Linked DNA regions of Homo sapiens. The protein of the gene in region 2 interacts with the protein of the main gene of each other region in a pairwise test. Each region holds a gene or a part of one and is shown on either strand. Other genes may lie near its edges. The genes, in order: CCDC117, STIP1, POLA2 and PPP5C.

The links.
Region 1: the proteins of STIP1 (region 2) and CCDC117 interact in binary tests that used the Homo sapiens proteins (3 or more experiments, as listed by UniProt).
Region 3: the proteins of STIP1 (region 2) and POLA2 interact in binary tests that used the Homo sapiens proteins (3 or more experiments, as listed by UniProt).
Region 4: the proteins of STIP1 (region 2) and PPP5C interact in binary tests that used the Homo sapiens proteins (3 or more experiments, as listed by UniProt).

The regions. Positions count from the first base shown.
Region 1 is NC_000022.11:28,767,715-28,775,694, reverse strand, and holds the start of CCDC117 (coiled-coil domain-containing protein 117), read right to left. Parts: upstream 3,001-7,980; 5' UTR 2,846-3,000; coding exon 2,661-2,845; intron 2,559-2,660; exon of another isoform or gene 2,472-2,558; intron 1,971-2,471; coding exon 1,917-1,970; intron 1-1,916. UniProt on the Homo sapiens protein: Facilitates DNA repair, cell cycle progression, and cell proliferation through its interaction with CIAO2B.
Region 2 is NC_000011.10:64,188,729-64,196,562, reverse strand, and holds part of STIP1 (stress-induced-phosphoprotein 1), read right to left. Parts: intron 3,486-7,834; coding exon 3,276-3,485; intron 2,375-3,275; coding exon 2,233-2,374; intron 2,085-2,232; coding exon 1,943-2,084; intron 919-1,942; coding exon 750-918; intron 1-749. UniProt on the Homo sapiens protein: Acts as a co-chaperone for HSP90AA1. Mediates the association of the molecular chaperones HSPA8/HSC70 and HSP90.
Region 3 is NC_000011.10:65,278,654-65,286,487, reverse strand, and holds part of POLA2 (DNA polymerase alpha subunit B), read right to left. Parts: intron 7,759-7,834; coding exon 7,565-7,758; intron 6,951-7,564; coding exon 6,862-6,950; intron 5,497-6,861; coding exon 5,341-5,496; intron 4,819-5,340; coding exon 4,756-4,818; intron 4,010-4,755; coding exon 3,967-4,009; intron 1-3,966. UniProt on the Homo sapiens protein: Accessory subunit of the DNA polymerase alpha complex (also known as the alpha DNA polymerase-primase complex) which plays an essential role in the initiation of DNA synthesis.
Region 4 is NC_000019.10:46,377,659-46,385,492, reverse strand, and holds part of PPP5C (serine/threonine-protein phosphatase 5), read right to left. Parts: exon of another isoform or gene 2,969-7,834; intron 2,083-2,968; coding exon 2,017-2,082; intron 1,714-2,016; coding exon 1,615-1,713; intron 690-1,614; coding exon 584-689; intron 1-583. UniProt on the Homo sapiens protein: Serine/threonine-protein phosphatase that dephosphorylates a myriad of proteins involved in different signaling pathways including the kinases CSNK1E, ASK1/MAP3K5, PRKDC and RAF1, the nuclear receptors NR3C1, PPARG, ESR1 and ESR2, SMAD proteins and TAU/MAPT.

The DNA.
Region 1 (7,980 bases), on a different chromosome or scaffold from region 2:
GAACTCCTGACCTCGTGATCCACCTGCCTCGGCTTCCCAAAGTGCCGGGATTACAGGTGTGAGCCACCGCGCCTGGCCTTACTTCTTTTTCTATTAGACTGTTTATGAGATATAATTTTTCATCTATTAGTTGGGCAGCAATCCCGAAGTTTAAAAACACACTTGTGTTCAGAGGATGTTAATGGGCATATAAATTGGCAAAAACTCACGTTCAAAATTTAAAATGCACACACTTTAAGACCCAGCAATTCCACGTCAAGGAAATCATTCATATACTTCCAAACATATACAAAGAACTTCAAAAGAATGGTCAGGGTAGATTGTAATAGCAAAAGATTAGAAATAATTTAGAAATGCATCAATAGGAAATTGGTTAATTATCTACACCAAGTCCTACGATAGAATTCCACACAACTACTTTCTTTTGTTTTTTTGAGACGGAGTCTCACTCTACTGCCCAGGCTGGAGTGCAATGGCGCAATCTTGGCTCACTGCAACCTCCACCTCCCGGGTTCAAGTGATTCTCCTGCCTCAGCCTCCTGAGTAGCTGGCATTACAGTTACGCACCACTACCCATGGCTAATTTTTGTATTTTAATAGAGATGGGGTTTCACCATGCTGGCCAAGCTGGTCTCAAACTCCTGACCTCCTGATCTGCCCTTCTCAGCCTCCCAAAGTGCTGGGATTACAGGTGTGAGCCACCACGCCTGGCCTCCACTCAACTATTGAAAGAGAAATTACGTAAACCTCTCTCTATGTGCTGATATGCAACAAGCTACAGAAGAGTAAAATGAAAAGATCAATGTGTTGCACAGTGTGAACCATATCTTCCTACAAATGTAAAAACACAGCCACTGCACTCCAGCCTGACAGAATGAGGCCTTGTCTCAAAAAAGAAAAAAAGAAAGAAAAAGAAAAACACTTGTGAACTTGGTAAATTTTTAGATTATCTTCTAAAGGAGACAATGAAAACAGGTAAGGGGGTTGTCTCTGGTGGGGAAAACTAGGGGTGTGGAGTAAAAGATTTTGTAATACAGCCTGGGGGACGGTTCACACCTGTAATCCCAGAGTTGGGAGGACTGCTTGAGGCCAGAAGTTCATGACCAGACTGGGCAACATAGTGAGACACCATCTCTACAAAAAATTTTTTAAAAAATTAGCTGAGCCTGGTGGCACAAGTCTGTAGTCTCAGCTGTTCAGGAGGCTGAAGCTGAGGGATCATTTGAGCCCAAGGAGTTTGAGGCTGCAGTGAGCTGTGATCACACAACTGCACTCCAGCTTGGGTGACAGAGCCCCTGACTTTAAAAAAAAAAAAAAAAAAAAGACTTTTCAGGCCGGGGCGGCTCAGGCCTGTAATCTCAGCACTTTGGGAGGCTGAGGCGGGAGGATCATGAAGTCAGAAGATCAAGACCACCCTGGCTAACACAGTGAAACCCCGTCTCTACTAAAAAAAAAAAAAAATTGCCAGGCGTGGTGGCGGGCGCCTGTAGTCCCAGCTACTCGGGAGGCTGAGGCAGGAGAATGGCATGAAGCCGGGAGGCGGAGATTGCAGTGAGCCCACATAGCGCCACTGCACTCCAGCCTGGGCGACAGAGGCAGACTCCGTCCCAAAAAAAAAAAAAAACAAAAACAAAACTTTTCAATATGTATCCTTTAAATTATTTTACTTTGTGCATGTAATATTAACATGGCTCAAAATCCAAATATTACAACTTGTTATAGAGCGAAAAGTTTCCCTCTGACCTGTCTGCCTGCCACTGTTACTTTCTCTAAAAGACAACCAATGTCACTAATTTCTGTGTCTCTTTCCAGAGACACTCATCTAATGTTTCACCTTTTCACTTAAGTAATTTAGACTATAACAGGGGTTCAACTAACGGTGACCACAGAGTGAATAAACAACCACTGAAACTTACTCATCATCCTCCTCCTCCTCTCGCTTGTGTTTCTTTTTACAGTGAACAGAAACACTGTTGAAACAAACAAAAATCAGTCAATTAAGAAATGTACTCGAGCTTGTGGTTTCAGTATCCTCTTTCTTGCTCCAATAATCTTGCTCATCCCCACATACCAAACGTCCCTTTCTGAGCCTAGTGGGATGGGTACAAATCACAGGTCAGTCGGGTAACGGTGGATTGCCCCGACAGAACTGGACAGTGAAATCTCAACTTGTCCTTTTATCAACGTAATGGAAGACAGATTAGGGAGGACCAAACCAGGGAAACGTCCTCGGGGCAGGCGCTGTGTTAAGCACTTTATTTAAATAATCTCACTAAGAGGACCCATTTCTGTCCCATGCTTGGCATACTTTGCAGATGAGACACTGAAAGTTGTCACTAACAGCGGCCGCGCCGAGGGGGCACCCAGACCGAGTCGCCCAGGTTCCAACTGGGAAAGTCTCACTTCTCCGGGCCGCAGTCGAGCTGAGGTTCGGACCGGACTCCTGGGCTATGTGACCCCCGGCGACTTACAGTTAACGTCTCCGGGGATCAGTTTCTTCATCTGTAAACTGGGCTGCGAAGCTCCCGCGGAGGGCCGTGGGGAGGGAGTCAAAAAGCCCCGGCGCGGAGCCCGCGCCCCTGCCCGCGCCCGCCGCGAGGGGCGCCCAGCCTGCCCGCCCGCCCGCCCGCCCTGCGCCCTGCGCCCGACGGGCTCCTCACCGTCCGCGCGCCGCACTCCCAGCGGGACTGCTAGGGACTGCGCGAGGTCCCGGCCGCGGGGCCAACTCGGCGCCGTCAGCCCCCGGCGGGAAGGCCCGGCCGGGGAAGGCCGGCTGCGGCGGCTGCAGGAAGTCCGAGCCGCCGCTCAGAGGGAGGCCGCTGAAGGGCCGGCCGAGCGCAGCCATAGCCGGCGAGACGAGGAGGCTGCGACGGCGGCCTCGGCCGCCCGCGTCCCCAGGCCCGGCAGCCGCAGCCACAGCTACTGCCAAAACCCGCCAGCCTCGGATCCCGCTCTCGACCCCACGTCACGCCTTCTAGAACCCTCCACCTCAGGCCGCTCGGGGGCATGCCGGGATTTGTTGTGTGTAGAGGGCCGCTGCCGCGAGGGATGCCGGGATTTGCAGTCCTTCCGGACTACAAGCAAAATGGCTGCTTCTCGACCTCTTAGCTGGGGCTTAGGGTGTCTCTGGCTGGCCAAGAGTATGACCTAGGTTCAAATCCTCACTCCGCAAGTTTCGTATCTCAGTTTCCACAGTAGTAAAATGAGATAATAATAGTACATATAATCATAGAGTTGATGTGCGGAGTACATGAATTTAAACATCTAGAGCCAGGGCAGGGCGGTGGCTCACTCGTGTAATCCCAGCAATTTGGAAGGTGGAGGCGGGAGGATCTCTTGAGCCCGGGAGACCCTGTCTCAAAACAAAAACAATCTAGAGCCCTTAAAGCAGTGCCTGACATACAATACACGCTCATTATCAGTTATTCATATGTGACTCTATTAATAAAAATGTAACAATTTTAATACAAATGAAGTTGGTGGTGCCTTAGAACAGCATAGAAAATTAAGTAAAAACCTCAGCTGCTGGCTGGGGGCGGTGGCTCACGCCTGTAATCTTACCACTTTGGGAGGCCGAGGTGGGCGAATCACTTGAGGTCAGGAGTTCAAGACCAGCCTGGCCTACGTGGTGAAATCCCGTCTCTACCAAAAATATAAAAAATTAGCCAGGTGTGGTGGTGCGCGCCTGTAATCCCATGTACTCGGGAGGCTGAGGCAGGAGAATCGCTTGAACCCGGGAGGCGGAGGTTGCAGTGAGCCGCGATCGTGCCACTGCACTCCAGCCTGGGTGGCAGAGCGAGACTACGTCTCAAGAAACAAAACAAAACAAAAAAACACCTCAGTTGCGCGGCAAGGTGGCTCACGCCTGTGATCCCATCACTTTGGGAGGTCGGAGGTGGGAGGTGGGAGAATCGCTTGAGGCCAGGAGTCCATCCTAGGTCTAGCTTGACCCTATCTCAACAACAAAAAAATAACAATTAGCCCACCGTGGTAGTGCATGTCTGTAGTCCTAGCTACTGGGGAGGCTGAGGTGAGAGGATTGCTTGAGCCCATGAGTTTGAGGTTACAGTGGGCTATAATTACACCACTGCACTCCAGTCTGAGTGACAGAGCAAGACCGTGTCTCAAAAAAAAAAAAAAAAAAAAGTAAACTCAGGACTTAAACAAAAACAAAAGCCTCAGAGCACTTGTGACAGGTACTGGCAAGCCTTCCAGCCTCTTTGGGGCATTCAGAGGCAGTATCTCCTGCCTGGGCTTGGCAGATGGTCAACCCCCAATCACTGACTATGCCCTGTTTTTTCCATCTCACAACAGCACCACCATCCAATCGAAACTGCTTATGCCAATGTCAATGCCCTTCAGCCAAAGCACACACATGTACATAATTGAACAAAGAAAGGTTTATCTACTCATTCCAGTGAGGAAATTTCTCCCTTAGGAGGTGTTACAAAGGCTTTTTATAGGATTTGGGGTTGTGTTAGACGTTTTGAGGGAAGGTTTTAAAAAACAGCTTTTGGCTGGGCTCCGTGGCTCACGCCTGTAATCCCAGCACTTTGGGAGGCCGAGGCAGGTGGATCACGAGGTCAGGAGAGCGAGATCATCCTGGCTAACACGGTGAAACCCCGTCTCTACTAAAAATACAAAAAATTAGCCGGGCGTGGTGGTGGGCGCCTGTAGTCCCAGCTACTCGGGATGCTGAGGCAGGAGAATGGCGTGAACCCGGGAGGCGGAGCTTGCAGTGAGCCGAGATCATATCACTGCACTCCAGCCTGGGCAACAGAGTGAGACTCTGTCTCACAAAATAAATAAATAAATAAACAAATAAATAAATAAATACAAAAAATTAGCCGGGGGTGGTGGCGGGTGCCTGTAGTCCCAGCTACTTGGGAGGCTGAGGCAGGAGAATGGCGTGAACCCGGCAGGCGGAGCTTGCAGTGAGCGGAGATCACGCCACCGCACTCCAGCAAGGGAGACACAGCGAGACTCCCTCTCCAAAAAAAAAAAAAAAGAACTTTTCGGCCAGGTGCAGTGGCTCACACCTGTAATCCCAGCACTTTGGGAGGCCGAGGCAGTGGGATCACAAGGTCAGGAGTTCAAGACCAGCCTTGTCAATATGGTGAAACCCTGTCTCTACTAAAAATACAAAAATTAGCCAGGCATGGTGGTGGGCGCCTGTAGTCCCGGCTACTCAGAAGGCTGAGGCAGGAGAATAGCTTGAGTCGGGGAGCCCAGGAGGCAGAGGTTGTAGTGAGCTGAGATTCGAGATCGTGCCATTGCACTCCAGCCTGGGCGAAAGGGCAAGAGAAAGAAAAGGAAAGGAAAAAGAAAAGAAAGAAAACAGCTTTGCTCTGGAATTAATTCTGTCTGGAAGTGGGGATAAATTTGTGATTGGGTGTCCTTTTTGTTTTGAGACAGTGTGTCACTCTGTTGCCCAGACTGGAGTGCAGTGGTGCTATCTTGGCTCACTGCAGCCTCTCCCTCCCAGGTTCAAGCAATTCTCGTGCCTCAGCCTCCTGAGTAGCTGGGATTACAGGTGTGTGCCACCTTGCCTGGCTAATTTTTGTATTTTTAGTAGAGATGGGGTTTCACCATGTTGGCCAGGCTGGCCTCAAACTCCTGACTTCAAGTGATCTGCCCGCTGTGATTGGGTATCTTAACCAATCTTTTCTATAAGGTGTGAGGAATGAAGGAAAGCTCAACCTCTAACTGGTAAAGTAGCAACAGTCCTTCATATCAGTTAGGGTAGGGTGGTATTTAGCAATTTTTGTGGTTTGGACAATGTTTATGCTTTTGCCTGTATTTGGACAGGATTAAGTGAACTTGTTTTTGTCGTGATCCATGAGGTCAGAATAGCCTTGTTTGATAACGCTCTGTGAAATTTTTATGTTTAACAGGAGGACAATGAAGTCTAACAGTATTGTGTCTGGAATTTATTCTTTCCGGTTGGTTCTTGGTCTTCCCAACTTCAAGAACGAAGCCATGGACCTTCGCGGTGAGTGTTACAGCTCTTAAAGATGGTGCGTCTGCAGTTTGTTACTTCAGATGTTCAAATGTGTCCGGAGTTTCTTCCTTCCGGTGGGTGCGTGGTCTTGCTGACTTCAGGAGAGAACCTGCAGACCTTCACAGTGAGTGTTACAGCTCTTAAAGGTGGCCTGTCAGGAGTTGTTTGTTCTGCCAGGTGCGTTTGTGATCTTGCTGACTTCAGGAATGAAGCAGCAGATCCTCGCGGTGGGTGTTATGGCTCATAAAGGCAGTGCAAACCCAGAGTGGGCAGCAGCAAGATTTACTGTGAACAGTGAAAGAACAAACCTACAGTGTGAAAAGGAACACGAACAGGTTGGCGCTGCTGTCTCAAGTGGCCAGCTTTTATTCCCTTATTTGGTCTTGCCCACATCCTGCTGATTGGTCCATTTTACAGAGTGCTGATTGGTCCATTTTACTGAGCGCTGATTGGTCCATTTTACAGAGTGCTAATTGGTGCGTTTTTACAGAGTGCTGATTGGTGCATTTACAATCCTTTAGCTAGACACAGAGCACCGATTGGTGCATTTACAATCCTTTGACTAGACACAAAAGTTCTCCAAGTCCTCACTGGACTCAGAAGCTCAGCTGGCTTCACCTCCCAGTATCAAGGAAGTTTCCTCTGTCAGAAGATACTTTTCTCTTTCTGACCAAAAACCAAGGCATCACCATGAATGCCTCTCTTTTGTTCACACCCATATCTAGTCAGTTAGCAAGTTCTATGGACTTTACTTGCAAAATGCTTCCAGATTCTCCCCATTCCTCTCTAACTCTATTGCCATTGTGATGATGCAAGAGAAAACTAACGAACCCCCTTTGCCAAGATAATGGATTGGGTTTCAGTTTTCTTAATGCCATTTACAATTCAATTTTGCATTCTTAAAGTAAAATCCTGCTTAACTGGATATAAAAGATACTCTCCTGGGCAATTTCTACAAATGGCCACCTCATTCCTTACCTTAAAAAATATCCTTTTTTCCAGCCTTGGCTACCAAATAGTCTTGTTGACTCTGGGGTTTAGGGGAAAAAAAAAAAAAAAAATATTTTTCCAGGCTGGGTGTGGTGGCTCACATCTGAAATCCCAGCACTTTGGGAGGCTGATGTGGCTTGAAGCCAGAAGTTCAAGACAAGTCTGGGCAATATAGCAAGACCCAGTCTCCAAAAAAAATAAAACCTAAAAAATTAGCCAGGCATGATGGTGCATGCCTGTTGTCCTAGCTACTACTGAGGCTGAGACAGGGGGATTGCTTGAGCCCAGTAGTTCAAGGTTGCAGGACACCATGATCATGCCACTGTACTTCAGCCTGGGTGAGAGGGCAAAGCTCTGTCTCAAAAAAACAAAAACGATACTTCCAGATGATCCTATGTATAAATATAAATACATATATATATATATATATATATATATATATATTTTTTTTTTTTTTTTTTTTTTTTTTTTTTTTTTGAGACGGAGTCTCGCTCTGTCACCCAGGCTGGATTGCAGTGGCGTGATATCGGCTCACTGCAGGCTCTGCCTCCCGGGTTCACGCCATTCTCCTGCCTCAGCCTCCCGAGTAGCTGGGACTACAGGCGCCCGCCACCACACCTAGCTAATTTTTTGTATTTTTTTTTAGTAGAGATGGGGTTTCACCATGTTAGCCAGGATGGTCTTGATCTCCTGACCTTATGATCCGCCCACCTCGGCCTCCCAAAGTGCTGGGGTTACAGGCGTGAGCCACCGCGCCCGGCCATAAATATATATTTATAAAAAGAGAGTCATGGCCGGGCGTGGTGGCTCATGCCTGTAATCCTAGCACTTTGGGAAGTCAAGGTGGATGGATCACCTGAGGTCAGGAGTTTGCGACCAGCCTGGCCAACATGGTGAAACCCTGTGTCTACTAAAAATACAAAAATCAGCCAGGTGTGGTGGTGGGCAACTATAATCCCAGCTCCTCGGGAGGCTGAGCAGGACACTCG
Region 2 (7,834 bases):
AAGGACGTGAATTACTCTCAACTTTCCAGTCTTGCTAGGACCAACATTCACACTGGCAGCAATGAAGCCGCTGTGGTGACCACGGGAAGGGCAACTCCCGCAGCTCACTCTTTGCTACACATTACTCCTAGGAATGCTCTTGTGAAGCTTTTTTTTTTTTTTTTTTTGAGATGGAGTCTCGCTCTGTCACCCAGCCTGGAGTGTAGTGATGAGCTCTCAGCTTATTGCAACCTCTGCCTCCCGAGTTCAAGCGATTCTTCTGCCTCAGCCTCCCGAGTAGCTGGGACTACAGGCGCCCACCATGACACCTGGCTAATTTTTGTGTTTTTAGTGAAGATGAGGTTTCACCATGTTGGCCAGACTGGTCTTGAACTCCTGACCTCAGGTGATCTGCCCACCTTGGCCTCCAAAAGTGCTGGGATTATAGGCATGAGCCACCGTGCCTGGCCTGAAGCTGATTTTTTAACATGCTGGCCATTCTAATGAATAATAGCCATAAGCTTAGCGCATACTAAAGCACTCAAAATAGTTTTAGGTGGGCACAGTGGCTCGTGACTGTAATCCTAGCTGAAGCAGGAGCATCGCTTGAGGCCAGAAGTTCAAGACCAACCTGGGAAACACAGCAAGACTCCGTCTCTAAAAAAACCATAATAATCATGGTCAATCAAGGTCAACAGATGTCCCCATTCAACATAAAGATTTCTAGTTGTTTATAGATAGGTGACAGTGAGGAGAGAAAAAAACAAGACCTGCTTCTTATTCTCTGGAAGATCTTCTTCCATTGGCTCTGGCTTGGTCTCCTTTTTGGGAGGGGGTGGTGGTGGAGGTGTTGCAATCTCTTCCTCCTCATCCATACTGCCCAGATCGACCCCAAGGAGGACGCTGAGAGTGGTCATGATCCGGGGATCTTGTAGTTTCCTAGTATTGATTTAAAAAAATAAAGAAAAATTGTAATTACTCCTCCCCACAATTAGTCTTTTAACTCCCACTTACTACTAAAGTCAGATTCTTGTGTTTAGAAGCTCCTCACCCATCAAAAGATGGCTAGATTTTGCACCACTCATGAGTTACAATTGAGAAATACTCAAACCGTCAAAACACTATCTAAAATAGAGTCAACAAAAACAAATAAAATGAAGTCACAGATAGCGGAGCACGGTGGCTCACACCTGTAATCCCAGCACTTTGGGAGGCCGAGGCGGGCAGACCACTTGAGGTCAGGAGTTTGAGACCAGCCTAGCCAACATGGTGAAACCCACCGCTACTACTAAACATACAAAAATTAGCTGGGCGTGGTGGCGTACACCTGTAATCCCAGCTACTCAGGAGGCTGAGGCAGGAGAATCGCTTGAACCCAGGAGGTGGAAGTTGCAGCGAACTGAGATCACACCACTGCACTCCAGCCTAGGGGACAGAGCGAGACTCCATCTTGAAAAAATAAAATAAAATAAAATAAAATAAAATGAAGTCACAGAGGTCAAGTTTATTCCTCAAGGTTAGCAGATACACAGAGGAATGAGTTGTTTTAGGTATACTTCCGTAGCTGATCTCAGGAGCCAGAGGATTGATAGAGATGAATACCAGTACAAGATTTAGACACATCTTTACACATGAACTTCAACCCTGTTTCCACTCTGATATACCAACAGAGAAAGTAGGGCCTAAGTAGATGGAAAGGATGGGGTTGACGCTAGATCAGAGTTCTAGAAGAGCAGGAGAGAGGTGTATACAGATGACAAAGAACATTCTAGATTACTGTGAAATATGCTCCCCTGACCCTTTCTATAATTACAAATAAACGACCACCACCTACTGCTCTGCAGAGAATAAGCAAAGGCAAAAACTCTGCAGTTTAGACCAGGGAACCCTCTGCTGTGAGGTTACAGGAAGAAAGCATAACATTCCCCGATTTCCAGAACCTCAGTGAGCGGCGTCCACTTACGTGCCCAGGTCAGAAGGCTTGTTTCGTAGCTGCTCTATCAGCTCCCGGTAGGTAGGATCACTGAGTAGTGTCCTTGTCCTGGGATCACTCTCCAACTTCTGATACAGATTAGGCATGTTGAAAGGGTTCATGAATTTTCTCTCTGTCCAAATAAAGGAAAGCACATCACTATGAAATGAGTTCACTAGAATTACTGTGTCCCATACCCTACCAGACTGACATTTCTCAGGGGTGAAGACTCAAAATTAATCACATTAATAATAAGAAAGAAAACTGTGCGTGGTACCTACCTGCCAACCTGGCCTCCATATTCTGTAAACCCTCTTTCAGTTGAGGGTTATTTGCCTCGTGTTTTAAGCCCTCCTCATAGGTTCGCTTGGCTTCTTCAAAGCGGTTTAAGAACTCTAGAGCTGCTGCTTTTCGTGAATAGCCCTTAAACCACCAAAGACAGACACAAAATAGAGAACACCCAGAGGTAAATCTAGAAGACGAACTCAAAAAAGAACAATTCTACTTTTATGGGGGAAAAATGAGTATTCACATGAAGGCCAAAGAGAAAAAAAGGAGAGGAGTAGGCTACGAGGCCAAGGCTGCTACTGTAAGGATCCATCCAAATAGCAGAGGCACATCCGCCCCGCCTTGTTCACCTCTGATCGACTGTGGTCAGTTTCTTTGGCAACACTTTTTCCCTTATTTTTTTGGTAAAGACAGGGACTCCTTATGTTACCCAGGCTGGTCCCAAACCTTTGGGCTCCAGTAATCCTCCTGCCTCAACCTCCCAAAGTGCTGGGATTATAGGCGTGAGCCACTGTACCGGGCCTCTTCCTTTTTTTTTGAGACAGGGTCTTGCCGTGTCACCTGGGCTGGATGCAGTGGCACGATTTCAGCTCACTGCAACCTCCGCTTGCCAGGCTCAGGTGATCCTCCTGCCTTAGTCTCCTGAGTAGATGGGACTACAAGCACATGCCACCATGCCTGGCTAAATTTTTTTGCATTTTTAGTACAGACAGGGTTTCACCATGTTGGCCAGGCTGGTCTTGAACTCCTGACCTCAAGTGATCCGCCCACCTCAGCCTCCCAAAGTGTTGGGATCACAGGCGTGCGTCACCGCGCCCAGCCCTGGCCTCTTCCTTCTTAGTACCAAAAATAAAGCCTGTATTACAACTAATGGCTACCTTAGATTTGATGAAAAATGCCATTTCTGAGGAGGATACTCAAACAGGGAGGTGGGTAGGTAACTATCAGTGTATCAGGACAGGTAAACCTCAGGCCACCAAAAGGCATTTCTGGAAGGGTCTGAAGGGCCTCTCTCCCTCCACTGCCCACAGCTGACCTTGCCCCAGTCAGGCTTTAGGTCGACAGTCTTGCAGCCATCCTCATAAGCCTTCTGGTAGTCTCCTTTCTTGGCATAGGCAGCAGAACGGTTGCTGTACAGCACGTGGTTGTGGGGATCCAGCTTAATAGCTTCGGAGTAGCACTGTAAGGCATCATCGATGTTACCCACGCTCAGGGCCTTGTTGCCTTTCTCCTTCAGCTCATTGACCTGAGGGGAAAGGAACACACAGCTTCTCTATGATGTGCCCATTTAATCCCAAGCTTTAAAGACAACACTCATTCTTTCATGTAGTTACCAACAAATAAATAGGTGACTTTACAGATCAGAAGAGAGAAAACCGGTTCATTTATTTAATTTCTCACACCTTCCCTAAGGAGCCAGCAAAGAAAAAATAAGCAGGGGCAAAGAGCCCAGGCTGCACTCCACGCTGGCCCCCATGTGACGAACGAGGGCTCTGCCACTCTTCCGGTCTCCACATGGAGCTCACGAAGCCACTCCAGAATGTGCCACATGCTCCTTCCATGGAAAAGTCAATTCATTTGCCACAGATTTCCAAAGCATCCAAATGACAAACAGAGCACAGCCCTAGTCACCCCTCACAGGAAGAAGGTGGGCGGAGTGGCACTGATACATGCTCCAGTGACCCAAAGGCTGTGGGATGGCAGCGGAGACTTCTCTTTCTTGGGAGCGGCAAGATGCTTGCCTATGGCATAGTTGTCATCTCCTCCCATCAGGGAAGAACCAGTCTCCATTTCCTGGTGTGGCAACATGTCACCACAGGATAGATAAATGTTCATTAATGGGTAACAGTCAAGCTAGCTCCCCAAATTGATTCCTGCCATTCTTAAATATTACATTACAAAGGGGATGGAGGATGAAGAAATGCTACTGTGGTTTAAACCTCTCCCTTCTCAAACATATAAAGTGCAAGAAGTAAGGATACAGCGGGGTTTTGTTTTGTTGTGTTTTTTGAGACAGAGTCTCACTCTGTCACCCAGGCTGGAGTGCAGTGGCACGATCTCGGCTCACTGCAACCTCCGCCTCCCAGGTTCAAGCGATTCTCCTGCCTCAGCCTCCCAAGTAGCTGGGACTACAGGCGCACACCCCCACACTTGGCTAATTTTTGTAATTTTAGTAGAGACGGGGTTTCACCATATTGGTCAGGCTGGTCTTAAAACTCCTGACCTCAGGTGATCCACACGCCTTGGCCTCCCAAAGTGCTGGGATTACAGGTGTGAGCCACCGCGCCCGGTGGGATACAGCAGTTTTAAAAAGTGAGGCAGCTCTGCCTGGCCGCCCCACCGACTGGGAAGTGAGGAGCGCCTCTGCCCGGCCACCCAACTGACTGGGGAGAGAGGAGCACCTCTGCCCACCTGCCCCACCGTCTGGCAAGTGAGGTGTGCCTCTGTTGGGCCACTGTGCAACCCTCCAAGTGTGAAGTGACAGCCTTGTGTGTGATCTTTCTGCCCTCCCCAAGTTTGCATTTTCCACATTAAATTTTACTTTTTCATTAAAAAAAAAAAAAAAGTGAGGCAGGCCTTGGCCCTGTCAGAACAGTGTCCTCACTAAAGGGTTTCTCCTTACTGAGCTGCCCCACAAAAGGTCAGGTGCCCCACAGCAGCCTACCTGAGGGCAGGCAACCCCTTGAGAAGCTCATTGTATTTATTATTATTATTTTTTGAGACAGAGTCTTGCTCTGTCCCCAGACTGGAGTGTAGTGGCACAATCTTGCCTCACGGCAACCTCCGCCTCCTAGGTTCAAGCGATTCTCCTGCCTCAGCCTCCTGAGTAGCTGGGATTACAGTCACCCGCCACCACGCCCAGCTAATTTTTGTATTTTTAGTAGAGATGGAGTTTCACCATGTTGGCCAGGCTGGTCTCGAACTCCTGACCTCTTAATCCACCCATCTCAGCCTCCCAAAGTGCTGGGATTACAGGCGTGAGCCACCGCGCCTGGCCATATTTATTTTTTTTTAAAGATGGCATCTCACTCTGTTACCAGCCTGGAGTGCAGTGGCATGATCACAGCTGACTGTAACCTTGAGCTCCTGGGCTCAAGCAATCCTCCTGACTCAGCCCTTTTTTTTTTTTTTTTTTGAGACAGAGTTTCACTCTGGTTGCCCAGGCTGGAGTGCAATAGCACAATCTTGCCTCACCACAACCTCTGCCTCCCAGGTTCAAGCGATTCTCCTGCCTCAGCCTCCTGAGTAGCTGGGATTACAGACACGCACTACCACATCCGTCTAATTTTGTATTTTTAGTAGAGACGGGGTTTCTCCATGTTGGTCAGGCTGGTCTTGAACTCCTGGCCTCAGGTGATCTGCCTGCCTTGGCCTCCCAAAGTGCTGGGATTACTGGTATGAGCCACTGCGCCCGGCCAACTCAGCCTTTTAAGTAGCTGGGACTACAAGTGTGTGTCACCATGCCTGGCTAAATGTTTTTTTCTTTTTGTGGTAGAAATGGTGTCTCACCATATTGCCCAGGCTTGTCTCAAACTCTTGGCCTAAAGCAACCCTCCTGCCTCAGTCTCCCAAAGGTGAACCACCACACCAGGCCAAAATACACTTTTAAGAGGTAAACGTTCTGTGAGATAGAGTTGTCACCGAAGTTACTAACTCATTCTATGTATTATCCACCCACGACCCAGTAAATTGATGCAAGAAATAGTTTTGTCAAGAGAAATGATTTTAGGCTGTAATCTCAGCACTTTGGGAAGCTGAGGCGGGTAGATTAACTGAGGTCAGGAGTTCGAGACCAGCCTGGCCAACATGGTGAAACCCCGTCTCTACTACAAATACAAAAATTAGCTGCTGCCGGGTGCAGTGGCTCACGCCTGTAATCCCAGCACTTTGGGAGGCCAAGGTGGGCAGATCACCTGAGGTCAGGAGTTCGAGACCAGCCTCAACATGGAGAAACCCCGTCTCTACTAAAAATACAAAAAAAATTAGCCGGGCGTGGTGGTGCATGCCTGTAATCCCAGCTACTTGGGAGGCTGAGGCAGGAAAATTGCTAGAACCTGGGAGGCGGAGGTTGCAGTAAGCTGAGATTGCGTCATTGCACTCCAGCCTGGGCAACAAGAGCGAAACTCAGTCTCAAAAAAATAAATAAATAAATAAATTGCCCGGATGTGGTGGTGCATGCCTGTAGTCCCAGCTACTCAGCAGGCTGAGGCAGGAGAATCATCTGAACCTGGGAGTCGGAGGCTGCAGTGAGCCGAGATTGCACCACTGCATTCTCACCTGGAGGACAGAGTGAGACTCTATTTGGAAAAAAAAAAAAAAGAGAGAAATGATTTTGGAATCCTCAAATAGAGAGATCAGGAACTTCCATCAATCAGAGACCTTACAGAGGCAAGGGCAGAAGGAACCTGCCAAATTAAGCAAACAAGGGATAAAAAATCCTAGAGCCCAAGATGGAGGCCAGAAGACGAAGAGTTAACAAAACTCAAGTGGTGTCAAGAGGCAGCTGGTGAAGTTCCTGCCTATGCTTTAGAAAAGCATTTTTCAAACAGAGTACTGATCAACAGTGGGTCAGGAAATCAATTTTGTAGGTCATGACCAGCATTTTAAGAGACCAAATGGGACAAAAAAATACCAGCACACAGTGCACATAACAGTAAATACTGTTTTGCTGAATGTGTTACATGGCTGTACGCCTGTGTTGGGTTAAATGTAAGAAGTGTATCATTGTGGGATTTGAAAGGCCCCTATTGAAAAAAAAAAGCCTGAACATTCAAAATCTGTCCAACTTTTTTTTTTTGGAGATGCAGTTTCGCTGTCATTCAGGCTGGAGGGCAGTGGCGCAATCTTGGCTCACTGCAACCTCGACCAGCCAGGTTCAAGCAATTGTCCTGCCTCAGCCTCCCACGTAGCTGGGACCACAGGCGCGCACCACAATGTCCGCTTATTTATTTATTTTTTTTTTTTGAGACGGAGTCTCGCTGTTACCCAGTCTGGAGTGCAGTGGCGCAATCTCGGCTCACTTCAAGGTCCGCCTCCCGGGTTCAAGCGATTCTCCTGCCTCAGCCTCCCAAGTAGCCGGGACTACAGGCGCGTGCCACCACATCCAGCTAATTTTTGTATTTTTAATAGAGACAGGGTTTCACCATATTGGCCAGGCTGGTCTTGAGCTCCTGACCTCGTGATCCACCCGCCTCAACCTCCCAAAGTGTTGGGATTACAGGCGTGAGCCAGCACGCCCGGCCCAGTTTTTCTTTTTTCTTTTGTATTTTTACTAGAGACGGGGTTTCACCATGCTGGACAGGTTGGTCTCAAACTCCTGACCTCATGATCCGCCCACCTCGGCCTCCCAAAGTGCTGGGATTACAAGTGTGAGCCACTGCACCCGGCCCAACTTGAGTATTTTCTAAACTGAAATACAAACCTCACAGTTGAAAATGAAAACAAAAGGTAGAGAAATCGTGTTTGTTTTCAGGAATGGCTTCCAGATGGTGGGCTCAAACACACCTGGGATTAAATGCCAGGTCATCTGTACAGCTGCCATGCCAGTTTGCTGTCCTAAGTCAAATATTCATTCACCATCTACCTACCTGTACA
Region 3 (7,834 bases), 1.1 Mb from region 2:
GAGCCTGGGAGGTTGAGGCTGCAGTGAGCTGTGATCATGCCCACTGCACTCCAGTGAGACTGTCTCAAAAAAAAAGAAAAAAAAAAGCCCACGAATTTATTATATTACAGTTCCAGGGGTCAAAAATCCTAAACTGAAGGTGTGGGCAGGGCTGAGTTCCTCCTGTCTGGAGGTTCTAGAGAAGAATCCATTTCCTTGCCTTTTCCAGCTTTCAGAGGCCACCTGCATTCCCTGGTTCATGGCCCCACCTGCAGCGGCAAAGCCAGAAGCCTAAGATTTCTCTATTTTGAAATAAAATTTTTCTTTAGGCTTCCTCAAATCACAGCAGCCTAACATTTCTAAGCTCTGACTCTGATTCTCTTGCCATTCCTCTTATAAGGACCCTTGTGATTATAGTGGACCCACCTGGATAATCCAGGCTAATCCCCCATCTCAACAGCCTTAACTTAATCACACGGGCAAAGTCTCCTTTACCACAAATGGTAAAATATTCACAGGTTCCAGGGATTCCTGGGGCTGTGATTCAGTCTATCATGGTAATAATACCATGAACTGACAGAGCATTCAAGGTGAAGAGCAGGTTTCATGTGGTGGTGGGGTAGGGGACAAAGTTAAGTTTGGCTCTGAGAAGCCTACAGGAGATGTGAGCCCCAGTGTAAGCAGTGAGTCTCTGGAGGGCGAGGGCCATGTCTTATTCTGTATCTCCATGAGTGCCTCATTTAATTCCTTGTACAAAAGTTCATTAACAACCTGTTAAACTGTTTCCAAAGGCTTCTCTGGTACACAGCTCAGGCTCCTGGTATCTCAGCCAGGTTGATTTCATTACCTGAAGTTGACCTAATACCAGCATGCCACCCTTGCCCCCTATAAATTTGTATTTTCTTTTTTTTCTTTTTCTTTTTTTTTTTTTTTTGAGATAGGATCTCACTCTCACTCCTAGGCTGGAGTGCAGTAGTGGTATGATCATGGCTCATGGCAGCCTTGAACTCCTGGACTCAGGAGAGTGATCCTCCCACCTTAGCCTTCCAGGTTGCTGGGACTATAGGCACATGCCACCATGCCCACACCCAGCTAATTTTTTTTTTTGAGACAGAGTCTAGCTCTGTCGCCAGGCTGGAGTTCATTGGCGATCTCGGCTCACTGCAACTTCTACCTCCCAGGTTCAAGCGATTCTCCTGCCTCAGCCTCCTGAGTAACTGGGATTATAGGCACACGCTGCCAAGCCAAGCTAATTTTTGTATTTTTTAGTGGAGATGGGGTTTCAGCTTGTTGGCCAGAATGGTCTCTATCTCCTGACCGTGTGATCCGCCCACCTCGGCCTCCCAAAGTGCTGGGATTACAGGGGTGAACCACTGCGCCTGGCCTAATTTTTGTACTTTTTGTAGAGATGAGGTTTCACCATGTTGCCCAGGCTGCTCTCAAACTCCTGTGGTCAAGCAATCCTCCTGCGCCAGCATGAGCCACCACGCCCGGCCAAACTTGTGTTTTCTGATAAAATGTGCAATATCACAAGGTCCTAAATTTCACTCCTGATTCTAGGTCATCTCCAAGAATGGCTCTGGCCACTGTTACATGCATGGGGTGTTGACAACATGCTAGTATCAGTGATCTGGTTGCTAATCCTTAACAGTGCTCCACTGTGCTTACAAAAATGCCTTGAGGGTTGGGTGTGGTGACTCATGCCTGTAATCCCAGCATTTTGGGAGGCCGAGGCGGGCAGATCACCTGAGGTTGGGAGTTTGAGACCAGCCTGACCAACATGGAGAAACCCCATCTCTACTAAAAATACAAAAATTAGCCAGGCATTACAGGTGCATGCCTGTAATCCCAGCTACTTGGGAGGCTAAGGCAGGAGAATCGCTTGAACCCGGGAGGTGGAGGTTGCGGTGAGCCGAGATGGCGCCTTGCACTACAACCTGGGCAACGAGTGAAACTCTGTCTAAAAAAAAAAAAAAGAAAAAAAAAACAATGCCTTGAAATACAGAAATACATACATATATTTTTTTGAGACAGGGTCTCACTCTGACACCCAGGCTGGAGTGCAATGGCACAATCATGGCTCACTGCAGCCTTGACTTCCTGGGCTCAAGCAATCCTCCTACTTCAGCCTCGCAAGTAGTGGGGACTATACAGGTGTGCACAACCACACCAAGCTGATTTTTTTTGTTTTTATTTTTTGTAGAGATGCAGACCCACTATGTGCCGGGAGGCTAAACTTAAACTGGGCTCAAGCAATTCTCTCACCTTGGCCTCCCAAAGTGCTGGGTTACAGAAGTCAGCCATCACACCTGGCCACCTTGAAATAAATAAATTCTATCTATCTATCTATCTATCTATCTATCTATCTATCTATCTATCTAGTGTCTTACTCTTTCACCCATGCTGAAGTGCAGTGGCATGATCACGGCTTACTGTAGCCTTGACTTCCCAGGCTCAAGTGATCCCCGCACCTCAGCCTCCTGAGCAGCTGGGACCACAGGCACATGCCACCATGCCGAGCTAATTTTTTTTTTTTTTTTGTAGAGACAGGTTTTCGCCATATTGCCCAGGCTGGTCTCAAACTCCTGGGCTCAAGTGATCTTCCCACCTCAGCCCTGTGAAGTGCTGAAATTATGTTGAAATATTTAGAAGCAAAGTTTGTCAAACTTTCTTTTTGCCTTTCCACAACTAGATTAGTTACCACATAACACTAGGGTTTTAAAGAAATTCTTTTTGGCCGGGCATGGTGGCTCATGCCTGCAATCCCAGCACTTTGAGAGGCCAAGGCAGGCGGATCACAAGGTCAGGAGTTCAAGACCAGCCTGACCAACATGGTGAAACCCCATCACTATGGGGTTTTGTAAAAATACAAAAATTAGCCGGGTGTGGTGTACGCCTGTAATCCCAGCTACTTAGGAGGCTGAGGCAGGAGAATCACCTGAACCCGGGAGGCGGAGCTTGCAGTGAGCCAAGATCTTGCCACTGCACTCCAGCCTGGGGGGCAGAGCGAGACTCCATCTCAAAAAAAAAAAGGAAGTTATTTTTAAGTTTTCACTTTAGAACAAATTTAGAATTGTAGAGAAGTTATGAAGATAGTACAGAGTTCCTGTGTGTCTTTCACCAGTGGCCCCTAATCTTAACATGTTAGGTAACCATGAACATTTGTCAAAATTAAGGCATTAATGCTGGTATATCGCTGTTAACTAAATTCCTGGATTCTCGAGGTTGAGTGTTAGAGCCAGAAAAATAAAAAAGTAAATTCCTGGCTTTATTCAGATGTTGCTAGTTGTTCCACTGATGTTCCCGTTCTCTTCAAGGATCCAATCCAGGATGCCACATTATACTTTCAAAAAATTAATTAATTTTAATTTTTTTTAAGAGTCAGAGTCTCGCTCTGTCACACAGGCTGGAGTAAAATGGTGTTACCATAGCTCACTGCAACCTTGAACTCCTGGGCTTAGGCAATCCTCCTGTCTCAGCCTCTGATTAGCTAGGACTACAGGCATGCACCACAAGCCCAGCTAATATTTTTTTTAATTTTTAGTAGAGACAGGGTCTCCCTATGTTGCCCAGGCTAGTTTCCAACTCCTGGCCTCAGGTGATCCTCCCACCTTGGCCTCCCAAAGTGTTGGGAATACAGGTGTGAGCCACCGCATCTGCCCATGCTGCATGTAAATAAATTCTTTTTGAAATCGTACATCTTTTCCTTTCCAAGGCAACCTTCAAAAATACCTGTTAAACATTAGTCTTTAAACAACATGCTTCATGTAGGCAGAACTCAGGCGACAGCACGACCAACGCTCACTGGGCTCAGACCAGGGGTCTTGTGACAAAAAACCTACGAACTCATGATGGTGGCGCCCTCACTGCTTGGTCACATTGCTCTTCAGCAGCTTCTGCAGCTTTCTTGGGCTTGGGAAACTGCACTCCTGGACTCATGTCTACCATCCTCATTGTTGGCAAAACAATATTTGAACCGAAACTCACCTGCATCCTCTTCAGTGGGCTGATAAAATGGAAGTGGCACACCCTAAAAACAGGGGAAAAGCTCAAGTAAGGTCTTGCGCCAGGCATCACCTTGGTAAGGAAAGGGGAGGGCACCAGGTTGGGGGTGGTGCAGGTGTGTGATGGGAGGACAGTGGGGAGGAGCGAGAGGGCAGGGGAAGGATGTGCCTCTGTCTTGCTCCCTGGATCTGATGGGACCTGCCATTTTTCTATACTGCTCAGAGGGCAAAGAAACCCAGGTAATGGGAGGTCACTACTCAATTGTCATAAAATACCCAGCAACAAGTGGGAGCAAAACAGGTGCCTAAAGTATCAGTGTACTTCTAGGCAAGGATGGGAGAGAATGGTTTCTTGCTACTTTTCCTGGCATTCTACGAAAATCTCTGGAGGATTGTTGCCTAGAGCAGGGATAGGTAACCTTTCGGCCTCTGGGCCAAATTTGGCTGCAGCCCACTATTTAAATAAAGTTTTATGGGAACACAGCCACAGTCATCTGTTTAAGAGTCCTCTATGGCTGCTTTTGTAGACAAAGGCAGAATTGAGTCATTGTGACAGAGACCATATAGCTACAAAGTCTAAAAGAGTTACTGTCTGGCCCTTTATAGAAAGGGTTTGCTGACCCCTGGCCTAGGGGTGGGTTCCCACTTACAGATGGAGAACTGACTAACAAATAAATGGGCTCCTAAAAAGGACCAGTTTCTAGAACAGACAGCTTCCAGACATACTTTGTCTGAAGCAAACCAAGAGGCAAGTGGGGGTACTGCTGTGTACCTCGTAGAGTTTGGTGGCAACAAGTTTCCTACCAGTGGTGTTGATTCCTTCCATAATTACAACCTGAAAGACAAAAACAAACAGGATTGCTAAGCAGTGGAGATCAATGAGGTCTGGAATACATTATTTTGAGGCAGTTAAAAGCATTGTCCAACTACTCTCATTCTGTAATCATAAACTTAGGGCATTTTTGTAGAAAACGAATTAAGGGCGTTGCATTAGTAATAATAATTATGCTCTATATAAGTGATCTAATTTTCACAACAATCCTATGAGGTAAGAATTATTATTTCCATTTTGTGAGTGAAGAAACTGTAGTTTAGATGGTTAAGTACCTTGTGCACAGTCATGCACCTCATGGAGCGGGGAGTTGGGATTTGAGGCTGCGCAGTCAGGTCCCAGAGCCTGGGTCAGAGCATGGGGGAAACAGGAATCCCAACAGTGGTGTCTGCTCTGGGGCATGTGCTCCAGCTGCACCCCATGGCAGCAGAGACAGGAACTGAGGAGCAGCTGCGCATGGCACAGCACCTACACTACAGGGGTAAAGAGTGCGCCTGCATTCTGGTGGAACTCCTCCAATCTCACCTGTCCAGGAAACAGAGAATATTCCTTAAGCTCAGATAAATCCACTGGAATTTGAGCACCCGAGGAATGTTCCCGGTCTCCCTCGAGAATCACTGACTTGTTGTTCAGCTTCCCGTTGCTATCACAGCCAATCTGGCCCAGCAGAGTGACAGGCTCCTACCAAAGGAAGGTCACAGCATAAGAATGACAGTCTTTGGAGCAGGAGCTCAAAATCTGAAGTCGATAGGGTGAATAGCAAAACAAACTGCAAACAACAAATACATTTCTTGGCAGGGCATTGCTTTGACCCTGAGGTGACTACCGCGTCATCACTGACTCTCAGGATGGAAGAACTCTGAAAGGGCATCTTGTCCACCCATCCACCCAGCACTTGAGCCTTCCTAGGAGGCTGCCTAAGTGTGAGCATCTCTAGTGTAGGGGAACTTGCCCCTGGATGCCTACCCCACCCTGTCCTCACCACCCCAGGGCAGCCCACTGCATCTTTGGGCAGCTATAACTACTTAATAATAGCTAACATTTCTTGAGCTTACTAAATACCATGCACTGTTCTAAAATGTATTCTTAGGCATTTTATATGTATTAACTCATTTAATCCTTGCAACAACCATCGGGTGGATATTACTGTATCCATTTTACAGATGAGGAAAACAAGCAACAGAAAGGTTAGATAATTTAGTCAAGGTCAAACTGTGGGTGAAGCTTGGGTTTGAAACCAGAAATTTGGCTCTAGAGCCATATCCTTAGCCACATACCATACAACCTCTTAACAGGAAGTTCTTTATTAATTGAGCTAAAATCTCTGTCTCCATGGCTTCCTCTGTTCTGTTCCCACTCTTGGGAGAAAACAGAGGAAGTCTCATCTTTCCCAGTGATTGTGCCTCCCTGCCTTCCCTCAATTACTTCCTTCCAAGTCCTCTAACACTTCCTTCTATGACACAGTTCTGCATCACTTCCCCAACTGATCATTCTTTGAATGTAAACATTGACAAAGGTACTTTAAAGAAACTTCTAGAATATATTTCCCCTTAGATTAGAAAACATTCTAGAGAGAAAGCACTGGTATATATGCCAGATTAAACTATGATATAAAGATACTATTGGCAGCAGTTTGTCTATAACAAGAGACCAAACCAGGGGAGAGACTGTGAGTCATTGTCCAGAGAACAAGATTCTGAAAACCCCACCGTCGCTGCTGTCCTTTTATCTCGATACGTGAATGCTTCTATTTGTGGGAAATCCCCGGGGAGCTACCTGACTCACCACCAAGGGAAACAAGGCCTTGAGTCTCTGCTTATGTGCAAGACTCTAATCCAAGTGGGAAGAAAATCACTCTCTGGCCACAAAACCAGACAGCACTTACAAATCTTTCTTCAGAAGGGCCCATTTTCCCAAATTCAACCAAGACAGATGTTCAAACTAGAACACAGACAAGAAGTGAAAAAGGAAGCAAGAAGGATGCCTCTTGGTCATCGATTTAAAAACGTAATATTAATTAGTGAGAACTATTAGAACAACTCTTACCTGTGCTGGGGCTAGCAAAGGAGTGAAAGCTTCAATCTTGTAATGTTCCTTGAGTTCGCTGCCAAGTTCTTCTATCTTACAGGTCAGAACTACAATCCCAGAAGTGGAAAAAAGTATTATGTTTAAGACATTTCACTTGCCAAGAAGAGAAAATACAGCACATTGTAAAATATTAAAGTCAGTCATTTTACAGAAGCAGGAAGGGTGCCTGGACATCTGGCCAGTTTAAACCTTCTAAAACCTTTGCCAATTTTCCGATATTTGGTTGCTGAATCTGGCCTTCCATCTGGCCACAGGAGACCCCATAGCACAATTCCAGGGAATCAGCATGAACCCCACCCCATCTCCAAGTCTGCCCTTTACTCAAGTCCTCACTGAGGTTTTAGGCAAGTCAAGGCCAACCTGAAGAAGGCTTCTAACGAAGGAACCATGAATATCTTTAAGTTGAATTCCTTTACATCGTTCAAGTTTTTGCTGCTGGGAATGGTTATGTGCGTTTTAGCAAAGTGAAGTGACTTGGGGCAATCACTGATAGTATTGCCCGTGTCCCTCCATTACTAGGGCTTCCATGAGGACATCTACCAACTCATACATTGAAAGGCAACCTTGGAACTTGTTCTACCAGCCTAGCTGAAGCTTTGTTACTCTACACCCTTCTAGGTGGTTTTATATCCACCAGAATTTCAAAGGGAAAAACAATCACCTTCTCGAATGTCTGGGAGCTTCTGAAACATGGATTTGTAGCTCCCAGTTAGTGCCTCTGGACATCCCAAGACCTTCAGGCTGATGTTTCCAGCTCCTCCTCTCCCAGACCAAGATACTCCCTGTGCTAAGCCGAAGGAGGTAACCACTTCTCCTCGGTTACTTCGTGAGTTGTATTTCTGGGAGGGAGTAGCACTAATTGGAAGCAAAACAGGTTAATATTACTGTGTTCATATCTAAAGGGAGAGAAGAATAAAATGAGGTTACCTTT
Region 4 (7,834 bases), on a different chromosome or scaffold from region 2:
AAAAAATGTTTACTGGAGACAAAGTCTCACTGTGTTGCCCAGGCTGGTCTCAAACTCCTGGGCTGAAGTGATCCTCCTACCTGGGCCTTCCAAAGTGCTGGGATTACAGGTGTGAACCAGCACACTCAGCTCCGGGCTCTACTTCAATCAAGAGAACCCAAATCTGACACCAAGCCTGAATCTGAGGGGGCACAACTGCCTCGTCAACAGTCTCCTTACTCCCACCCTCGAGCCCTGGTCTGTTCACTCAGTCACTCAGCTTTAGTGCCAGATTTAGGGCCACCCAGGAGCCTGTTTCATGCCCTTGTGCAAATTAGAATAAGGGGCCCATCCTCACACCCTTGTTTGCCATCTGCTGAAAAATGGTCAGAGTAAACATCCATTTCTACACTATCTATGATGTAAACGCGTCCTTTGGTGTGATGCTTTTGTGCAGTGCACTACATACTCAATCTTAAAAGGTCGCCCTGTGCATGATCTCCGAGTCCACAAAATAAATACAGCTGCAACTATTATCCTTGCAGAGTGAGTGCCCCACTCAGGACCCCACAATGAACCCAAACCTTGTCACTTCCCAGCTCACCTCGAAGGAGGTGAAAGTGATCTGGGTACAGGAGCTTGAAGCCGAAAAGGGTGAGGATCACTTCTACAGAGAAGGAGCCTCGGTCCACAAAGTCACCATTAAATATCTGTCCTGCTGAGGAAAACATGGCAAGCGTGGAGGGGAAGGGTGCGGTGCGGTGGGGTTGGGGGTGGTGGCAGAAGATGGGCCAGATGGGCTGCTCCTGCCTGGCCTCAAGCCTCCTGTCAGCACCTCCCAGGGAGTGAGGACTTGGCAGGGCTCAAGGGATCTGGGTTTCTAATCCTTTCCTCACCGTGGCTCCAGCCAGAGCTTGGCCGCTGAGCCTCAGTAGTATGGCACTGAGGACCCTGCCTCCTGTCTCCCGGAAAGCCAGTGGCGGGGAGGTGCGGGGACTAGTCAGTCCACCTCCTTCAGCTCTCCTCAGAGAGGCCTGGAGCCATGGGGGAGATGGGACACGGGCCCTCCCACTCAACAATGCATAGGCCTAGTGGCCCTACAAGTGGCCGTTCATCGAGCAGATACCATAACACGGGGAAATACTTAGATAGCATCAGGTGTGGGCCAGGCCCTGTTCTTAACCTGTCCTCTCAGTAACTGCTGAGTAACAAGGTTGCACATATTATTATCCCTCTTTGCAAATGGGGAAACTGTGACACCAAGCAGTGAAGTAACCTGCTTCGGTCACACAGCTGGGAAGTGGCAAAGCCAGGATGGAACCCAAGTGTGGCCAGTGCCAGGTGCCATTCAAATGTGATCCTGAGGCAGACGAAGACAAGCCAAGACCCAGAGAGACTGAGCTACCAGCTTAGGTCACACAGCAGGTGGGTGCTGGCCCAGGCCTGTCCGAGCCTGGAGCCTGGGGTGCATGGCCAGCCTGCAGCTCCACCCACACCTTGGTGCCCCAGCATGGCCAGGCCTCTCCTTTCCAAGGTCACGTCTTTTCCTGGCAAGGGCTCCTCCCACTCTGTGCAGACCTGAGGCTGCGGCTGGGGGTGGAGGTGGGGAGAGGGTGGCTCTGCTGAGAAGGATACATAGGGGTTGGTCTCCGAGGGTAAACCGTTGAGCTCGAATATGTTGAGGAGGTCATAGAACTGGCCATGGGTGTCCCCACATACTGTAATCTTCTCTGTCTGAAAGAAAAGAGGCCACCGGAGAGGGACGGGCCGAGAGAGAGACGTGGGGAGGGGGCAGAGGTGAGGGGAAGGGTAAGAGTTCACAGTAGACCAAGAAGAATCATGCAAGAGACACAAGCAGGGAACACAAACGAAGACCAAGAGGCCAGGAGAGAAATGGGATATTCAGGAGGAAAGGCACAGGGGTGGGGTGTGAGGGAGAGAGGGAGGTGGATCCGTGAGTTCCTGAGCTCTGTGGCCCCTCCCCAGCCAGAGAGCCCACCCCCGCTGGCCCTCCCCGCACTGCCCCACAACGCGCACCTCTTTGAGTGTGGTTTCCACGAGCGTGCTCAGCTTGGAGAGGACCTCTTTGACCTGTACCAGAATCTGGAAGGCAGGGCAGACTCAGTGGGACCGGCTGCAGGGGCTGCTGCCCAACCTGGCCCCGAAAGCCTGGACTGCCCATGAGACGCTGCTGGGCTGAGGGCGAGGGAGAAGCAGGGAGAGAAGAAAAAGGGCAGGGCAGGCCTGGGGGAGCGGGAGCAGGCGGGGCCGGAGGCAGCCGCAGGCTTCTGTGGCCTGTGCAGTGCCGAAGCATTGCGATTGTTTTGTACGAAAACCTGATTCTTGAATTATCTTAAAATACTCAGCATCAAGTGGAAATACATGCATGAATCCAGATCGTAGAACATTTTATAAAAGAACTGGCCTGGACACAGCGCAATGTCACTGTCATAAAAGAGTCTCCCAAAAAAGAAGTGAGACTTTCTAGGTAAAAAGAGGTAAAAAGGCAGGTCATAGGCAACACTGGTGCTTTCAACGGACGCTGAATTTTTTAAAAGCAGCTAAAAAGGATGTTTTGGGGAGAGCTGGGGAGAATTAAAATACTAATAGATGTCTAGAAATGCAGATGATTTATTTTTCACAGATTGGATATGACCTTGACAATGACATGCATATTTGTCAATGTTTCCAGATTTTCCGGATGGCCTGTGGACTGTCTACCTTAGTCAGTATTATCACATCAATGATGAATTTCTAAGGTAGGACAATTCAACTGTGGTCACACAAGAGGACGTCTTTGTTTTTGGGAGATCCAGGTTATGATGGCTGCAACTTACTTTCAAATGGGTTAGGGGAAAAAAAAGAAAAAAGTATACACATACAAATGCATAAATAAGTAGACAGACACATAAAGTTAATGCATTAAAATGTTCACAAGTGGTGAATCTGTGTGAAGGGTGGACAGATGTTAACTGTACTGTTCTTTCAGCTCTCTGTAGGTCTGACGATTTCCAAAATAAGCTGGGGAAAAAGGTGTTAAGAAAATGCAGGCGGCATCCACTTCTAGTCAGAAGGTAGAAAAGTTACAAAAGACTGTCTCGCCCTAAAGATGAAAACAAGCCAAACAAGCAACAAAATCAAAGGTAAAGCCATCTGAGAGCTGGCAATGCAAAGGGACCTAAATTAATCAAAATGCAGACAGGACGAGCCCTTCCTTGGGGAAGGAGCCCACAGCTTTCACCCTGGTGCGAGGCAGCAGGGCGGGATGCCCTGCGTGAGGGGAAATGAGTGGAAGTTCATGACCGTGTGGGGACTGGCGTGACAGATGAGGACTCCAGGGAGCCCCAGCACAGCCCGCCTCTGCCCCCTGCCAACTCCCTCACACGGGCTTCATGGAAGGTTGGGCGCGAGGGAGTGAGGTGCAGAGAAACCTCCTGAGGTACAGAAGTGGGGGCGAGACTGGAGAGCGGAGAGCACCCCAGTGGCCCCACAGTCTGGCGGCAGGGCTGAATACCAGAGGCCTCCCACAGTTCCAAAAGCTGGCGACTTTAAAACATAAAGACATCCCTGGAATTCTGCCAGGGCTAAGATCCCAAGCTCTGCTGAAGGGAAAGTCCTAATTCTACTCTGAACACATTTAAAGCCGGTGGTAAAGAAACTCCAATAAAAGCTGCCCCTAAACTACAGATGAGGTTCACACAGCCCCTCCCTCTTGTGGCTCAACAGGAGAAATGTGTGCCATTTTCTTATTTGTTTATTTGTTTTAAGACAGGGTCTCACTCTGTCACCCAGGCTGGAGTGCAGTGGCTCGAACACAGTTCACTGCAGCCTCAACCTCCCAGGTTCAGGTGATCCTCCCCACTCAGCCTCCCAAGTAGCTAGGACTACAGGTGCCAACCACCATGCCTGGCTAATTTTTGTATTTTTTTTGTAGAGGTGGGGTTTCTACAAGTTGCCCAGGCTGGTCTTGAACTACTGGGCTCAAGCGATCTGCCCACCTTGGCCTCCCAAAGTGCTAGGATTACAGGCCTGAGCCATGGTGCCCAGCCTAAGTGTGCCATTTTCTGAGGAAAAACTTTATTTACCTCAGTCTCTAATGTTCTTTTATACAAAATAGCTGGCATACAATAAAATTGTAAAACACATGAAGAACTGGTAACAGAGCAGACTCAGAGATGAACCAGATGATGGAACTATCAGACAGAGACGTTAAGATAACCATGGTAAATGTGTGAAAGGACTTGGTGGAAAAGGTGGACAACATGCATGAACACATGAGACACAGAGATGAAAAGTCTATTAAAAAAAACACAACTAAATGAAAATGCTACCAATAAAAAATACAATGTAAGAAATAAATAATTCATTTGTTGGGCTTGACAGCAGTTACAAAGAATCAGTGAACATAAGGACAACTGAAATTATCTGAACTGAAATACATAGAGGAAAAATCGTGAAAAGAATTAAAAAAATTCAGGTCATTAAGATCTAAGGAATAGTATCAAATAGTATCAAAGAGCATGTTATTAGCTTTCCAGACGGAGAGGAGAGCAGAAATGGGAAGAAATATAAGAAATAATGGCTAAGAACTTTCCAAAACTAATGAAAGATATTAACCCACAGACTCAAAAAAAGCACATCAAAGCCCATCATAGTCAAACTACTAAAACCCAAAGGCAACATCTTAAAACCAGTGAAGAAAAAAGCAGACTATATAGAACAAAGATATGAATGATTGCTGAGTTCTCACAGAAACAATGGAGGTCAAAAGGCAATGGGAAAAAAACACATTTAAAGCCTTGAAAGAAACAATGTCAACCTAGAACTCTACATCCAGCAAAGACACCCCTAAAAATGAAGACAAAATAAAAACATTTTCAGGCAGACCAAAGCTGAGAGAATTAGTCTACAGCAGACGTGCACTGTAAGAAATGCTAAAAGTACTCAGGCAGAAGGGGCATGATACCAGATAGAAACTCACATATGGAAGAAGAAACAAGGAGTAAGAGAAAGGGTAAATATAAAAGACATTTTCTGTGTATTCATACGTGTATTTCTTTAGAAGACTAGTGTCTATTTAAGGAAATGACAACAATGTATTTATAGCAGATGCATAAGCATGACAAGAGCACAAAGGCTGGGAGAAAATAAAAGCAATCACAATATTGTAAGATTCTTTTTTTTTTTTTCTTTTGAGATGGAGTCTCGCTCTGTTGCCCAGGCTGGAGTGCAGTGGCACGACCTTGGCTCACTGCAACCTCCACCTCCTGGGTTCAAGTGATTCTTCTGCCTCAGCCTCTCGAGCAGCTGGGATTAGAAGTGTGTGCCACCATGCCTGGCTAATTTTTGTATTTTTAGTAGAGACAGGGTTGTAGAGATGGGGTTTTTGCCATGTTGACCAGGCTAGTCTGGAACTCCTGACCCCAAGTGATTCACCTGCCTCGGCCTCCGAAACTGCTGGGATTACAGGCATGAGCCACTGCCCCAGGCCATAAGATTCTTATATTGTCCATTAAGTATCATATTATTATTTGAAAGTAGAATAGGACAAGTTAAAGTTACACATTGTAATCTTTGGAGCAGCCTTTTTCATCCAGGGTTCCGGGAAATGATTAAGCCCCACAAAAAATATTTTCAGTGATATCTGCTCAGTTCTCCCAAGGAGAGCACACAGATTCACAGGAGAGGAGTTAATTCACTGCGGATATAATGGATGCCTAAGGGAGTTAGGGCTTAATTCTCTCTATAGAGCCTCAGCTGAGAAGGGCTGCTCTAGAGCAACCATGTAACACTCCACCCCTCGCCACACACATTCAAAAGTATAACAAAAAATTCAATAAAACAGATGAAATGCTAAAAGATTCCTGATTCACACAAAAGAAAGTCAAAGAAGGAGAAACAAGGGGGAAAAAAACAAATGGGACATATAGAAAAGAGACATCTAGACAGTAGATTGAAATGCAATCATATGATTGCTGATAGTTAAACATAAATGAACTAAACACTCCAATTAAAAGGTAAAGATTGGCTGGGAATGGTGGCTGACACCTGTAATTCCAGCACTTTAGGAGGCCGAGGTGGGTGGATTATCTGAGGTCAGGAGTTTGAGACCAACTTGACCAACATGGTGAAACACTGTCTCTATTAAAAATACAAAAATCAGGCCAGGCATGGTGGCTCATGCCTGTAATTCCAGCACTTTGGGAGGCTGAGGCAGGTGGATCACGAGGTCAAGAGATCGAGGCCATCCTGGCCAACATGGTACAATCCCATCTCTACTAAAAATACAGAAGTTAGCTGGGCATGGTGGTGCACACCTGTAGTCCCAGCTACTCGGGAGGCTGAGGCAGGAGAATCACTTGAATCTGGGACACAGAGGTTGCAGTGAGCTGAGATTGCGCCACTGCACTCTACCCTGGTGACAGAATGAGACTCCGTCTCAAAAAACAAAACGAAACAAAAATTAGTTGGGTATAGTGGCGTGTGCCTGTAATCCTAGCTACTCTGGAGGCTGAGGCAGGAGAATTGCTTGAATCCAGGAGGCAGAAGTTGCAGTGAGCCAAGATCACACCATTGCACTCCAACCTGGGCAACAAGAGCGAAATTCCACCTCAAAAAAAAAAAGGTAAAGATTGTCCAACTGGATAAAAAGGCAAGACCCAAGTATATGCTGTTTATAAGAAAAACATTTTAAATATAAAGATACCAATGGGTTAAATACAAAAGGGTAGAAAAGTTATAGCATGCAAATATTAACTGTAAAAATCTGGTTTAACTATTTTAATAGAAAACAGGGATTTCAAGCCAAAAAGTACTGAAGTCACTTCATTATAATGAGTCAATTCATCAAGAAAGCATAACAATCCTAAATGTGTGCCTAATAAAAATTTCAAAATACAGGAAGCAAAAAACTGAGAATTATAGGGAGAAATAGGCAAATCTACAAGTATAGTCGGAGCTTTTAACAGCCCCCTCAATAAATGATTGAGCAATTAGAAAAAATAGGCTATAAAAGATTTTTAACAGCAGTCTCAACCATCTTGAACTAATTGACATTTATAGAGCCCTATGACTAACGACTGCAAAATACACACTATTTTCCAGTACATACTGCATGTTTGCCAAGACAGATCTAAAAATAGCCCCAATGGAATCATCCAGAGTGTGTTGTCTGACCAAATTAGAAATCAGTAACAGTAACATCTAGAAGTCCCCAAATATTTGGGAGTTAAACAATACCCTTCTCAATAATCTATGGATAAAATCAGAAACCATAAAGAAAATTAGAAAACAATTCTAACTCAATGATAATGAAAATACGACGTATTAAAATTCACGGGACGCAGCTAACTTACTGCCTGGAAGGAAATTTAGTTTTAAATGCTTTGTGTGGAAGAAAAGATGTAAAATTAACAGCATTAATGTCCATCTTCAGAAGCCAGAAGAAAGCAAATTAAACCTCAAGCATGCATAGAGAATAATGAATGAAAAATCAATGAAACAAAAGACAATCAATAGAGAAATTCAACATGAACAATGAAAACATGTTCACAAAAAGACTTGTCCAAGAAGTTCATAGCAGCTTATACTTATAAAAGCTACAAAGTAGAAATAACCCAAATGTCTCTCAAAAGAAGACTGCATAAACAAGTCATGGGCTGTTCAGACAATGGAGGACTTGAGCTACCGATATACACAACATCCATGTATGAATCCCACACACATTGTGCCACATGAAAGAAGAGACACTAAACGCTGTAAGCCCATATGACATTGAAATGAAATTCAAAACCAGGCAGAATTAATTTACAGTGGTGAAAAATCAGATCAGTGGTTGCCCCTGGGATGGGAGTGA